2 linked regions of the Homo sapiens genome follow. The protein of the gene in region 1 interacts with the protein of each later gene in a pairwise test. Each region holds a gene or a part of one and is shown on either strand. Other genes may lie near its edges.

What was found.
Region 2: the proteins of THAP4 (region 1) and DGAT2L6 interact in binary tests that used the Homo sapiens proteins (3 or more experiments, as listed by UniProt).

What each region holds. Positions count from the first base shown.
Region 1 is NC_000002.12:241,584,598-241,592,158, forward strand, and holds part of THAP4 (peroxynitrite isomerase THAP4), read right to left. Parts: intron 129-7,561; coding exon 9-128; 3' UTR 1-8. UniProt on the Homo sapiens protein: Heme-binding protein able to scavenge peroxynitrite and to protect free L-tyrosine against peroxynitrite-mediated nitration, by acting as a peroxynitrite isomerase that converts peroxynitrite to nitrate.
Region 2 is NC_000023.11:70,194,042-70,201,602, reverse strand, and holds part of DGAT2L6 (diacylglycerol O-acyltransferase 2-like protein 6), read right to left. Parts: intron 2,333-7,561; coding exon 2,222-2,332; intron 1,792-2,221; coding exon 1,721-1,791; intron 1,349-1,720; coding exon 1,144-1,348; intron 1-1,143. UniProt on the Homo sapiens protein: Diglyceride acyltransferase that uses fatty acyl-CoA as substrate. Particularly active with oleate as a substrate. Has no wax synthase activity to produce wax esters.

The DNA.
Region 1 (7,561 bases):
CTCTAGGTTTACGGGGTCACCTTCTTGTAGGTGACGTGAAGATGCTGAGTCATTGGCTGTGTCGTGGTTGCCATGGAGACCGTCTGCTCAAGTTTGCCTTCAGAATTCAGCCTGAACTTCCGGGTGATCTGAGCAGGAGAATGGAACAAAGATAGCTTAGTTTTATCTTCAAAAGATTCAATCAATGCCTGTGCGCCCACTGCATGCCACACACTCATCACGGGCTGTGAGCCAGGCAGTGGCCCTGCCAGAGGAGGGTAGACACACAGCCCAGGGCCCCTGGGCATGTCACAATCCAGGTGCCCTTCAGCTGCCTCCAGAAGACCACCAGGGGAACACAGGGATTGTTTATTTAGAAGTCACCTTTTTTGTCGACGGCCATACCACCCTGAACGCACCTGATCTCGTCTGACCTCGGAAGCTAAGGAGGGTCGGGCCTGGTTAGTACTTGGATGGGAGAAGTCACCTTTTTTTGGTCTCTACAAATCATATACCTGATCAGACAAGCGCTGAGCTTCCAGTGCTTCCCTTCTCCACTGCCTCCCACTTTCACTGTAACTAGAACTGATGTCCAGTGTGTTCTTGGAAAGCTCAGAAATACCATCTTTGGAACAGTAATTCATCAGAATAAATTATAGCAGCTGTTTCCAACAAGAATCCAAGCCTATGGCAGCTAAGTCCCGAATGAGTCAGCCCTATATGCCCAGAATGTTTGCCGGCAAATTGTGAGAGTGACCACTGTCAAAAGACAATTCTCTGATGGGCACTATCTCTCTAGTGCCCCAGATGTGTGGGGGGTCATGTGGGGTGGGGGGCACCAGAAGTGGATGAAACGGAGTTCTGCTTATGGCCATGGCTGACTACTCTGTAACTGACCAACCCTCCTGCAGATAACAACCCAGGTTTTAAGAAGTTTCTTTAAAGGTGTCAGAGAACCACCAAGTCAGCGAGGACCAGCACCCCAAAGAGAAGGAAGTGTGGAGGTGAGACCCAATTTGGAGCAACTGGCCCCGATGCTTTTGCTGCCCGGAAGTCAAGGGGTTCAAGGGGTGGAGGCTGAGAGGGATGTGGTAGCTAAGAGGCTGAGAAGCTAAGTGGGGCCTTCTCAGACTCATGGAGCTGGAGGGACAAACACTGGAATTCAGTGTCCATCTAGGAGGAGAGGCGCAGCCGGGCATGGTGGTATGCACATGTAGTCCCAGCTACTCGGGAAGTTGAGGCAGCAGAATTGCTTGAACCCAAGAGGTGGAGGTTGCAGTGAGCCGAGATCATGCCACTGCACTTCAGCCTGGGTGACAGAGCAAGACTCCTTCTCAAAAAAAAAAAAAAAAAGAAAAAAAAAAGAAAAAGAAAAAGAAAGAAAAAAAGCACCCTGAGGTTGGGCACGGTGGTTCACGCCTGTAATCCCAGCACTTTGGGAGGCCGAGGCGGGCGGATCACGAGGTAAGGAGATCGAGACCATCCTGGCTAACAGGGTGAAACCCCGTCTCTACTAAAAATACAAAAAAAATTAGCCGGGTGTGGTGGCGGGTGCCTGTAGTCCCAGCTACTCAGGAGGCTGAGGCAGGAGAATGGCGTGAACCCAGGAGGCGGAGCTTGCAGTGAGCCAAGATCGCGCCACTGCACTCCAGCCTGAGCAACAGAGCGAGACTCCATCTGAAGAGGAAAAAAAAAAAAAAAAAAAAAAGCACCCCAGCTTTGGGTGGGGTCCCTGAAGGGTCCCATCCCAGGAGTAAGAGTTAACCAGAAACAGGCTGGGAAGTCCGGTTTCAAACCAGCTCAGCCTCTACTGAACACGAGCTGTCCATCCTTGACCAACAGGCAGAAGCACAGAACTGCTCTTTGGTGAGGATAACATCAAAGGAAGCCTCAAGTCATCTCTACAATTTTTCACACATATTGTCTAGAATCCAAGAAAAAAAGAAAAACTCCTTAGGTTACTAGGAGATAAGATCAAAAGAAAAAACAGGAAATAGACACCTCCCCCACCCTCACCCAGGGGATACCAATACTGGAGTTATTAGAAGACAATATGGAGAATTTCTGCAGGTAATCAGAATTTATCAAAAAGATTAAAATATAAATTCTACAACTGAAAAACATAATAACTCAAATTAAGGCCCCAATAATGAAATAGACAAATTAGACACAGATGAAGAAAGGATTAGTAAAATGGAAAATGATCAGTAGGAAATATCCACATTGAAGCTTAGAGAATAATGGAAAATATGGATGAAAGCATAAGGGACACATTGAAAATTGCAAAAGACTGAACACATGTGTAACCAGAGACCCAGAAGAAGATAGGAAAGACAACAGAACACAAGCAATATTTGAAAAGATCATGGCCAATTTTCTGAGCCTAACAAAATATATCAAGCCACAAATTCTAATTATATCACAGCAAAACTTTGGCTGATAATCAAAGGCAAGAAAATAGAAACTTGAAAGCAGCCAGAGGTGGGTGTGGGTGTCATGGTTAATTTTAGGTGTCAAAGGTCAAAGGTGACCGATTAAGGAACACCTAGAAACCCGGTAAAGGATTATTTTGAGTATGTCTGAGAAGATGTTTCCAGAGGTGACTGACCAGGTGAGGAAGATCTACCCTCCATGAGGGTGGGCACCATCTAATAGGCTGGGGGCCCAGATAAAATAAAAACAAAGATAAGGCGAATATGTCCATCTGTTTGCTGGAGCTGGGATACACTCTTCCTCCCCCGTCCTTGGACACCTCCAGGCCCCCCGACCTTTGGACTCCCAGATGTCACCAGCACCTCCTCTCTCCTCAGGGCTCTGAGACCTTTGGCCCAGGACCAAGAGTGACACCACTGACTTCCCTGGTTCTGAAGCCTTTGGACTTGGACTGAGCCATGACACTGGCATCCCAGGGTTTCCAGCTTGTGGAGGGGACTTTTATAACTATTGAATGCTACATTCGTTAAGTGTACATGAAATATTCATGAAGTTAGGCCATATACTGGGGCGTAAAATAAGTCTCCAACATTTTTTAACAGACTAAAATATTAGAGGGTATGTTGTCTGGGCCTTATAGAATTGAATGAAAAATCCTGAGCAATAGAATCTATTTAAAAAATTCTCAATTATTTGGAAAATAAGTAACATATCTCTAAATAACCCTGTTCAAAGAAAAAAAAAATCACTACAAAATTAGCCGGGTGTGGTGGCACATGCCTTTAATCCCAGCTACTCGGGAGGCTGAGACAGGAGAATCACTTGAACTGGCGAGGTGGGGGTTGCAGTGAGCCAAGATTGCGCCACTGCACTCCAGCCTGGGCAACAAGAGAGAAACTCCATCTCAAAAAAAAAGAAAAAAATCACTAGAGAATAGCCACTCTACTCCAGCCTGGGCAACACAGAATACCTTGTTTTTATTGAAAGAAAAAAGTAAAAAGGAGAGAAAAGAAGGAAGGAAGGAAGGGAGGGAGGGAGGGAGGGAAGGAAAAGAAGAAAAATAAAGAAACAAACTACAGAAATGAATGAATTTAACAAAGTCACATGATACGAGATCAATATACAACAGCTAATTGTACTTCTATATACTTGCAACAAATAAGTGGAAAATTAAAAAATCATTTATAATAGCATCCCAAACCACAAAATATGTAGGAATAAATTTAACAAAATGTGTGCAAAACCAATACGTTGAAAACTACAAGAAAATATAGGATGAGACTGATCTAAATAAATGGAGCACCTTACCATGGCACTGGATTGGAGGACTCAGTTTGCCTAAGATGGCACTTCTTCCCAAATTAATTTAGAAATTCAAGTAGTTCCAATGAAAATGTTTCTAGAAACTGACAAGCTGATTCTGAAATTCATAAGGAAATGCAAAGGGTCCTAGGATAGCCAAAACAATTTTGGAAAAAAGAAAAAGAAGAAAAGTTGGGTAACTTCTATCACCTGATTCAATATAAAGCTACAATGATCAAGACAGCATGGTAACAGTATAAAGACCGAAACAGAGAAGAGTGGGACAGAAGAGAGAGTCCTGGGGAAGAACCACACACACAAAGTGAGTTGATTTTCGACAAAAGCACTGCATACTTTAATAAATTAAGGGTTCTCTTTTCAACAAATGGTGCTGGAAACGAGGTATCTGTATGAGGAAAAATGGAAAAAACGTGACTACTACCTCATACCATCTAGAAATAGCAATTCCAAATAGCATATATCTTAAAACTATAAAACTTCTTGAAGAAAATGCAGGTGAAAATCTTTGCTGCCTGGGCTAGGTGAAAAATTTTAAGACAGGACACAAAAAGCACTGACTAGAGAAAAAAAATGGTAACAGAATTAAAACATTTGGTTCTAGACTGCGCATGGTGGCTCACGCCTGTCATCTCAGCGCTTTGGGAGACCAACGAGGGTGGATCACCTGACGTCAGGTCGAGACCGGCCTGGCCAACATGGTGAAACCCCGTCTTTACTAAAAATACAAAAAATTAGCCGGCCATGGTGGTGGGAGCCTGTAATCCGAGCTACTTGGGAGGCTGAGAGAGGATAATCGCTTGAATCTGGGAGGTAGAGGTTGCAGTGAGCTGAGATCAGGCCATTGCATTCCAGCCTGGGCAACGAGAGCAAACAATGTCTCAAAAAAAAAAAAGAAAAAGAAAAGAAACCCCCCACCCCCACCAAAAAAAACAACATTTGGTTCTTCAAATGGTACTGTCTAGGAAACAGAAAGGCAAGGCACAGGATAGGAATATCGTGTTGGCAAGTACACCTGATAAAGGACTTATACCCAGAACAAACAACAGGCTCTTACAACTCAGGAATAACACAAACACTTAAACAAATGGGCAAAAAATCTGAATGTTCATTTCACAAAACAAGAAATACAAGTGGCAAATAAGTACAACAAAAAGATGAGCAGCATCGTTACTCAGCAGGGAAGTGCAAATTAACATCACAATAAAATACCACCCTGTAGTGGCCAGGATAAAACTCAAAGGCCAACCCTTGGCGAGGCTGTGGGACAACCTTGCTGGGGTGTCAAGGGGGACAGCCACTCTGGAAGAGATTGGTGCTTACCACAGAACCCAGCAGTTCCAATCCCAGGTATGCACCCAAGAGGAAAAAAAACATGTGTCCACACAAAGTTAGGTCTACACATGCTTACAGCTTTATTCCTAATAGCCCGGAACTGGAAACAAATAAAATAAACATCCATCAACAGAAAGGATAAACAAAACTGACAAGCTCACTGGTGGACCACCACACAGCAACAAGCAGACGTGGCACATGCAGCAGAACTGCTGAATCTTGAGAGCGTTTCAGTGAGGAAAGGAGACCGGAAACAAATGAGTTGTGTGCTGTGACTCCACTGATGATAATGATGGGCACTAGGACACTCAGAGCTGCTCGGCTGACGATGATGGGCACTAGGACACTCAGAGCTGCTCGGCTGACGATGACGGGCACTAGGACACGCAGAGCTGCTCGGCTGACGATGATGGGCACTAGGACACGCAGAGCTGCTCGGCTGACGATGATGGGCACTAGGACACTCAGAGCTGCTCGGCTGATGATAATGGGCACTAGGACACTCAGCTGCCCGGCTGATGATAATGGGCACTAGGACACACAGAGCTGCTCGGCTGATGATAATGGGCACTAGGACACTCAGAGCTGCTCGGCTGATGATAATGGGCACTAGGACACTCAGAGCTGCCCGGCTGATGATGAGGGGCACTAGGACACTCAGAGCTGCCCGGCTGATGATGATGGGCACTAGGACACTCAGAACTGCCCGGCTGATGATGAGGGGCACTAGGACACTCAGAGCTGCTCGGCTGATGATAATGGGCACTAGGACACGCAGAGCTGCTCGGCTGATGATAATGGGCACTAGGACACTCAGAGCTGCTCGGCTGATGATAATGGGCACTAGGACACACAGAGCTGCTCGGCTGATGATGGGCACTAGGACACTCAGAACTGCCCGGCTGATGATGAGGGGCACTAGGACACTCAGAGCTGCTCGGCTGATGATGATGGGCACTAGGACACGCAGAGCTGCCCGGCTGACGATGATGGGCACTAGGACACTCAGAGCTGCTCGGCTGATGATGATGGGCACTAGGACACACAGAACTGCTTGGCTGATGATCATGGGCACTAGGACACTCAGAACTGCCCGGCTGATGATGAGGGGCACTAGGACACTCAGAGCTGCTCGGCTGATGATAATGGGCACTAGGACACGCAGAGCTGCCCGGCTGACGATAATGGGCACTAGGACACACAGAACTGCCCGGCTGACGATGATGGGCACTAGGACACACAGAACTGCCCGGCTGACGATGATGGGCACTAGGACACACAGAGCTGCTCGGCTGACGATGATGGGCACTAGGACACTCAGAGCTGCTCGGCTGACAATAATGGGCACTAGGACACACAGAACTGCCCGGCTGACGATGATGGGCACTAGGACACTCAGAGCTGCTCGGCTGATGATGATGGGCACTAGGACAGACAGAACTGCCAGGCTGACGATGATGGGCACTAGGACACTCAGAACTGCCCGGCTGACGATGATGGGCACTAGGACACTCAGAGCTGCTCGGCTGATGATGATGGGCACTAGGACACTCAGAACTGCTCGGCTGATGATCATGGGCACTAGGACACTCAGAGCTGCTCGGTCTACAGTGGCAGAAACCAGGCCGGGGGCTTGAGAGGGCAGCGGGGGTTGCCTGTGGAGCACGGGGACTTTCTAGGGTGCTGGGACTGTTCTCAGTCTTGACTGGCGCAGCGTTACAAGATTATATATGCTTGTCCAAATGTATCAAACTGCACACTTGAAGTGTATGCATTTATTCCATATAAAGTATACCTCAATAGAGGTGATTTTTAAAAAGTAGAAGCCATGATAATGAAGACAGTGTGGTATTGGCACAGGGACTGACAAACAGACCACCTGGAACCAGAGAGAGGGTGAGAAGCAGACCCCTGATGAAGGATACTGAGGGGCTCAGGGGGCAGTTGCATGGGTGAACAGGGGGGCCGGGCTCTTCATGCAGGGTGCAGGGTAGCTGGCCCTCATCTGAGAACAAGGAGAGGGGACAGCACTTCACACTATACACACAACTCAGCCCCAGGTGGATTAATGACCTAAAGGAAAGATTTTAGGTTGAACTGTGAAGCTTCCAGAAAAATTCAGAATACATATTTTGACCTGTTAGTGAGGAAAGACTGCTTAACTAAGACATTAAAAACAGAATCCATAAAGGAAGAGATTGGCAAACTGAACCACATAAAATCCAGAACCTCTGTTCTTCAAAAACAATTTGTAAAACTCAAAAGATAATCACAGACCGAAAAAGCTATTTGCAACACATTTAGCTAACAGAGCTTTATTCAAATCATATAAAGAACTCTGACATGTCAGCCAGAAAAGGCACAGTGGAAATGGTCACCAGACCTGAACAGGCACCTCGCTGGAGGATGACCCAGCAACGACGTGAAAAGATGCTCAAGCTCGCAGGTCACCGGTGGCAGCCCAGGCTGCAAAGCTAGGTCCAGAGCCACCCAC
Region 2 (7,561 bases), on another chromosome or scaffold:
TAAGCCCACCTCATCCCTCTCTACCCATGAAGCACAGCCATCTTCCACTCTGCCCAGCCTGACAACACTGGAGATCCTCCAGAGTTCTCTCCTCCAGGGGTAATCGAGACTAGCCACCACCAACCTGCTTCCTCCCTAAGAGTAACCTGCCAAAGGGAAGCCAATGGCTGGGGTTTCTGGAGAGTAGGCAGACCCCTGAGCCTGACCAAGCCAAACTGAAACGTAGATGAATAATGGAATGTGAATGACACCCTGTTGTTTAACAACAATCATCTAGCCTTTCTCACTTCTGTCTCCCATCTTTGCCCTGCGCTCACCTTCTATTGTCTACTGTGATGGCAGAAATTGCCTCCAGACTCTAGCCATTGAGAAGTATTCCTGCTCCAGGGCCATGCTAACCTCAGAGCAGAGTAGAAGCATCCTCTGGGACTCTAGTGGTCCCACCTGGCCCCTCCACAGAAATGTATCTTACCTTTGGATGTTTGGCTTCAGTTGTTTTCTGGTGTCCAGAAGGATGACTATTTGTCCAGAGAGAGAGACATTTGTCACAGTGCCCTGACTTGAAGCTGAGCATGGGGAAGTTGTTCTGGATACTCTGATGAACTCCTATCCTTTATCCCTTAGTATTTTATGCAAGTGTGAAGGGGTTCCAGGGAGATAAAAGTCATGGACCAGGAGGGTTTTAGCTAGTATGATAGACTTCAAAATGTTTTTAAGACACCATGGTGTACAAATGACCGGCCCAAAGAGGCCAGCTGACATCCTAGAGAGAGCCTGGTGAAGTTCGCCTGAGCTATCCCATTCACACCTGCTTTTCCCTGGATTTGTGTTTAATTCTTGGCTTTCATCCTCGATTTGCACTTTGGCATTGGTCCTGAATTCCAGCCTTCTGGTTCTCCCTCTGAAAAAAGTCCTGGTGACTCCTATGAATGCCTATAATTTCCCCTGCTGCCCAATCAAACCCTGCTCCCTAGATCTTGGACAGAAACTAATGCTTAGCCACATACTCCTGTTACGGGCCCAGGGTGTCCTGGACTTATTTTCTATCATGTACTCTTCAAGCAGGTAGTGATTGTCAGGACTTATTGGGGTTGCACCTTTGAAGTAGGTAAAAAAATAGAATTAATTATTTCTTATACTCACCCATTGACATCACATATTCTCGCACAATTGGGATCCAAAATATCCTTTCTAAGGTCCCTACAAAGGGAGTGATGGATGGGAAAATCCGAGCAATGCCAGTGGCCTCAGTGGCAAAGTTGATGAAGACACCAAAAGAGAGAATGCCATGGGGGTGATTGGCAATGATGTAGTTGTGTTTGGGAGAAAGATCATGAGTCTTCACCAGCTGTTAGAGGGAAATTGAGTCAGAGCATTGGCTACAAAGAAGGAAGAAACCACGTGTGGACTAAAATCCCAGCAGGTAGCCTATGTTTCCCTCTGGGAGCCCCAAATCCCTGTTCACTAGGTTGTCATCATTGTCATAGGATTGCCAGGGCTCACGATGGTCAGAGAGGCTGACCTGGGTTTGCCAGTGAAGGAAAGGCTGCCATCCACCTGTTTCCCCACCTGCCCATCCATCTTGGGCCCTTGCTTTGCATTATGACTCGGGGCCTTGACCTTCGCTGCTGACCACCAAAGCCTCTGAAAACATGGAGCTGAGTAGGGAGCAAGGGTCTGGGCAACAGGGACTGAGGGCACCCCGAGGAAGAGTGGTCACCTTTACTGGGAAGTAATTTCGGAAATACTTCCATAGGGTCCAGTTTCGTACCCAAGCTGAACGCCTGCCACCTGTGGGTACAGAAGGGAAGGGAAGAGTACACAGGGCATTGCAGTCCCTCTACCTCTCCCAGAGGAGGAGAGTTCTGCCTGCAGTCCTCAGGTCACGTGAGGGGCCTCCTTCTGACACCTCAGAACTGTAAGTACTGTCCCTGAATCCAATCCCCAAGACATAGGAAGCCCCTGCTCCTCTAGAGCCGACCAGAAAGGTGACAGGAAAATAGTCTGAAGCTGGGGGCACCTGCCCAGAGACCTCAACCTCATAATTCTTCCTGAGCTACCTGGTAGAGACCTCTGTCCCTGCTGAGCTTTGCTCTCCCTTCTCCCTCCCCTTCCTTCCCCTCTCCCCTACCCTTGGTTCTCCCCCTCTCCCTCCACCTCCCTCTCCCTGTCCTTCCATTCTTGGCCCAAACAGGACCACCATTGTGCCCCTGTCTCTTACCTTGACTGTGGGTGTTCCAATCATAGGTGAGCCAGGCTAAGGAGAGCACAGCCAAGGGCCAGAACTTACTGAATAACAGAAAGTAGGGTATAAGGAGAATGGGAATAGCTCCTGGGGAGACACAAAGGGTTCAAGCCTTTCAGTTCCCTTCAAGTTTTAGTATACTTCTCATAACCCCGGCCTCTGCTCTACACTACAGGAGCAGGGCTAGGCTGATGTGGGACTCTTCTCTCCTTCTCCCCTCTTCCCCAACCCCTCGCCCTCCATTTGTCTCTGCTGTGGTCTAGGCAGGCCTCTGAAGCCCCTGGATCTGGGTCTCCTTGATGGCCAAACTCTCAATTGAAGAAAGAGCAGAACCATGAAGTTGAGGTCAAAGGACAGCACGGCTTGGTGAATGGGAAGAAGAGCACATTGGGCTGGTAGCTGAATCCCCATTCTGGGACCTCTGGAAATTCTTTCTAAAAGCTTGACCCTCTTTCCTGTGCTGAACTGATAAGTCTGCATATTCCAGCAGGGAGGTTACCCGCAGTGTACAGGCTGTTTGATGCTGAAAAGTAAACACGGATTAAAAACCACTCCACTTTGGGAGGCCGAGGCAGGCAGATCACGAGGTCAGGAGATCGAGACCATCCTGGCTAACACGGTGAAACCCCATCTCTACTAAAGATACAAAAAATTAGCCGGGCATGGTGGCACATGATTGGAGTGCTACTCGGGAGGTGGAGGCAGGAGAATCGCTTGAACCCAGGAGGTGGAGGTTGCAGTGAGCTGAGATCGTGCCATTGCACTCCAGCCTGGGCAACAGAGCAAGACTCCGTCTTGAAAAAACAAAACAAAACAAAACAAACAACAACAACAACAACAAAACTGCCCTACTAGGCCAGGTGCGGTGGCTCACTCCTATAATCTTAGCAATTTGGGAGGCCAAAGTGAGAGGACAGCTTGAACCTAGGAGTTTGAGACCAGCCTGGGCAACAAAGCAAGACAGTATCTCTAAAAAACCAAAAAAACAAAAAACAAAACAACAACAACAAAAAACACTTTACTGTGTTCATTTTGTTCCATTCAAAAGTATCACAAAGGTTCAGAAGGGGAAGTCTGTGTTAGCAAATGGCCATAGCAGGCTGTAACTGCAAACACGATACATGTTACAGCAGTGCGAATGAATTCCATTTAAAAAATCTGCATTCATGAGAAAGAGGGGCTAAGTATACATATGGTGAATAAAAAAAGACTTAGCTAAGGGAATGACTTCTTTGACCAGGTACCATGTCATAGCAGATAAAAGTTTCAGGGAAGAAGAAACTCGGGAGTTACCTACCAGTTCTTTGTCTCTTGCATTTTGGACATAAATGAAAATAGCAGGAAAAAGGCTGAGTGGACAGTGCTTTAAAAAGTCATGTTATGGAGTAGAAGAAACCTTTGTAATAGGCTGAATTGCCCTCATAAGCACTGGTCGAGATAGTTGTTGTAAGCATTCAAATTAGACAGGAAAGCGTGGTGGGAGGAGTTTTATGGGAAGCCTGCCATGGAGAAAAAGCCTTGCTATCTATGCCCTTCATCAAAGAGGAGAGTAAATTTGCCAGTTAAGCTTCAGAAGGAAATTCAGATAAAGTTAAATAAGAATAATCACTAATTAAAGTTAGCCTAAGTGTATCATTTCTTTTATATTTTGTTTCAAATAAATTTTGTTTGTTTCCCCAGTATTTAGAAGAGAGCTTGGCACACAGTAGGTGTTCAACAAATATCTGTAGACCAATTGAAAACGAAATAAGCAAATGTTTTCTCTTTTCAGTAGTAAACTTGATAATTACTATTTAGTCAGCATGTATAGTGTTATTTAAATGTGATGTTATTTTAAAAGCATAGACGGATTAGTTGTGTGCCTTTTATCTGATTCATTCATCCACCAGTCCTAAAGGCGGTCTAAGAGCCCTTACCTGGGTAACACCATCCCCCTTGTGGAACCTATTGGAACTGCAGATATGACCCGGCAGGAGACGAGGAACGTTTTTTTCAGAGCAAGGCTTCCAGACCCAGCCCGAGTGTCATCAGTGTCGTGCACGGTAACAAAAGTGGAATTTAAAGATATAGGAGAAATAGAAGCCAAATGTGGAAGAGCTAAGTCTCATGTAAAAAGAGTTCCGTGACATAAAGCAAGGGTATCTGAAGAAGGAATGATGAAGAACAAGCATTTATGTATGTGTGACACTCCCTTAGGTATTATGGCCTTGACACCAGAAGATGGTTCCAATTTCTCTTGTCACGTTCAAGTGAGGCGTCTTGGAGAGGGTTATCAAAGAGGAAGTTCACATAGGTAGGCTCCTAATTTAGTTTGTAGTGAAGATGGCCAAGCCATTCTAATATATGTGCACTGGGGGAAAAGAAAAGAAAAAAAAAGAAGAAAAAAAAACTAATATATGCGCATTGGTAGCTCATCATAATTTTAACTTGCATTTCTCCAATAGCTAGTGATGCGTAACAGCTTTTCATGTGCTTGTCTGCTTTCTGTATATCCTCTTTGGTGAAGTGTCCATTCAAATCTTTTGCCCATTTTTCAATTGGGTTGTTTTCTTACTGTTGACTTTCGGTAGTTCTTTATGCATTTTGGATATAAGTTTTTTTGTCTGATATGTGATTTGCAAACATTTTCTCCTAATCTGTGTCTATCTTTTCATTCTTGTTAACAGGGTCCTTTTTACAGCAAAAGCTTTTAATATTGATGAAGCCCAACTTATTAATTTTTTTTCTTTTATAGATTGTGCTTTTGGTGTCAAACTGAAAGAACTCTTTGTCTAACCTCATGTCATGAAGATTTTTCCCCTATATTTTCTTTTCTTTTCTTTCTTTCTTTTTTCTTTTTTTTTCTTTTTTCTTTCTTTTTTTTTTTTTTTTGAGACAGGATCTGGTTCTGTCACCCAGACTGGCGTTCCATGGCGTGATCTCGGCTCAACTCACTGCAACCTCCGCTTCCTGGGCTCAAGCGATCCCCCCACTTCAGCCTCCAGAGTGGCTGGGACTACAGGAGCATGCCACCACACCCAGCCAATTTATTTTGTATTTTTTTGTAGAGACAGGGTCTTGCTATGTTGCCCTGGCTAGTTTCAAACTCCAGGTCTCAAGTGGTCCTCCTGCCTTAGCCTCCCAAAGTGCTGGGATTACAGGTGTGAGCCACTGCCCCTGACCTCCCCTGTGTTTTCTACTAAACATTTTACAGTTTTCTTTTTTTACATTTAGATCTACAATACACTTCAAGTTCATTTTTACCAGTTTTATGGAGGTATAATTTACAAATAAAAATGGTGTATATTCAATGTGCACAATGTGATGATTTGAGACAGGTATACATTGTGTGATGATTACAACAATCAAATTAATCAATACATTCACCACCATACATAGTTACCCTTTGTGTGTGTTTGTGGCTAGAGGTGAGGATACTTAAGATCCACTCAGCAAATTTCAAGCATATAATACAGTATTATTAATGCTGCTATACTTTAGATTCCCAGAAATTATTCTTTTTGTAACTGAAATTTTGTGCCCTTTGACAAATTTTTCCTTATTTTCCCTCTGCCCCAGCTCCTGGCAGCCACCATTCTATTCTCTGCTTCTATGAATTTAATTTACATTTATTTACAAATATATATATTTAGAGACAGGTTCTCTCTGTGCTGCCCAAGCTGGTCTCAAATTCCTGAGCTGAAGTGATGCTCCCACCTCAGCCTCCTGAGTAGCTAGGATTACAAACATGTGACACCACATCCAGCTCTAATGAGATCATATGGTATTTTTCTTTCTGTGTCTAGCTTATTTCACTTAGCATAGTATCCTCCTGGTTCATCCATGTTATTGCAAATGGCAGGATCTCCTTTTTATGGCTGAATAATATTCGTGTGTGTGTGTGTGTGTGTGTGACACTTTCTTTATTCATTCATCTGCCAGTGGACACTTAGGTCGATCCCACGTCTTGGCTATTACTAATAATACTGCAGTGAACATGGGGGTGCAGATATTTCTTCAAGACACTAATTTCATTACTGTTGGAAACTCCCCACTATTTTCCATACTGGTTGTAACAATTTACATACCTACCAACAGTGTACAAAGATTCCCTTTTATCTATATCCTCACCAAAACTTACCATTTGTCTTTTTGATAATAGCTATCCTAACAGGTGTAAGGTGATATCTCACTGTGGTTTTGATTTGCAGCTCCCTGATGACTAATAATGTTGAGCCCCTTTTCATATACCCTTTGGCTATTTGTATGTTTTCTTTGGAAAAATGTCTATTCAAGTCCTTTGCCTATTAAAAAGTTTATGTTATTTTATTTTTTTCTATTGAGTGGTATGAGTTCTTTATATATTTTAGAGATTAACCCCTTATAAGAGATATGGTTTGCAAATATTTTCTTCCATTCTGTGGGTTGCCTTTTCATTTTGTTGATTGTTTCCTTGGCTAGGCAGAAGATTTTTAGTTTGAGGTACTCCTGCTTGTTTATTTTTGCTTTTGTTGCCTGTGCTTTTGTTGTCATATCCAAAAAATCATTGTCAAGGCCAATGTCAAGGAGCTTTTTCCCTATATTTTCTTTTAGGAGTTTAGTGATTTCAGGTCTTACATTTAAGTCTTTAATCCATTTTGAGTTAATGTTTGTGTATGTCATAAGGTAAGAGTCTAGTTTCATTATTTTGCATGAGGATGTCTAGTTCAACACCATTTATTGAAGAAACTATCCTTTTCCCATTGTGTATTCTTGGGACCCATTTCAAAGATTAGTTGACTATAAATGCATGGGATTATTTCTGGGCTATCTATCTTATTTCATTGGTTTCTGTGTCTGTTTTTATGTCAGTACCATAGTGTTTTGATTACTATGGCTTTGTAATATAGTTTGAAATCAGGAAGTGTGATGCCTCTAGCTTTGTTTTTCTTTCTCAAGATTACTTTGGCTATTCAGGGTCTTTTGTTGTCTCATACAAATTTTAGGATTTTTTTATGTTTCTTTTAAAAATGTCATTGGAATTTTCATAGGGATTGTATTGGATCTATAGCTCACTTTGAGTAGTATAGACATGTTAATAATGTTAATTTTTCCAGTCCATGAACACAGGATATCTTTCAACTTATTTGTGGCTTCTTCGATTTTTTTCAATGTCTTACAGTTTTTGGTATACAGATCTCTCACCTCCTAGGTTAAATTTATTCCTAAGTATTTTATTCCTTTTAGTGATATTGTAAATTGAATTGTTTTCCTTCATTTCTTTTTTGGATAGTTTATTGTCAGTGTATAGAAATGCAACTGATTTTTGTATGTTCATTTTATATCCTGACACTTTAC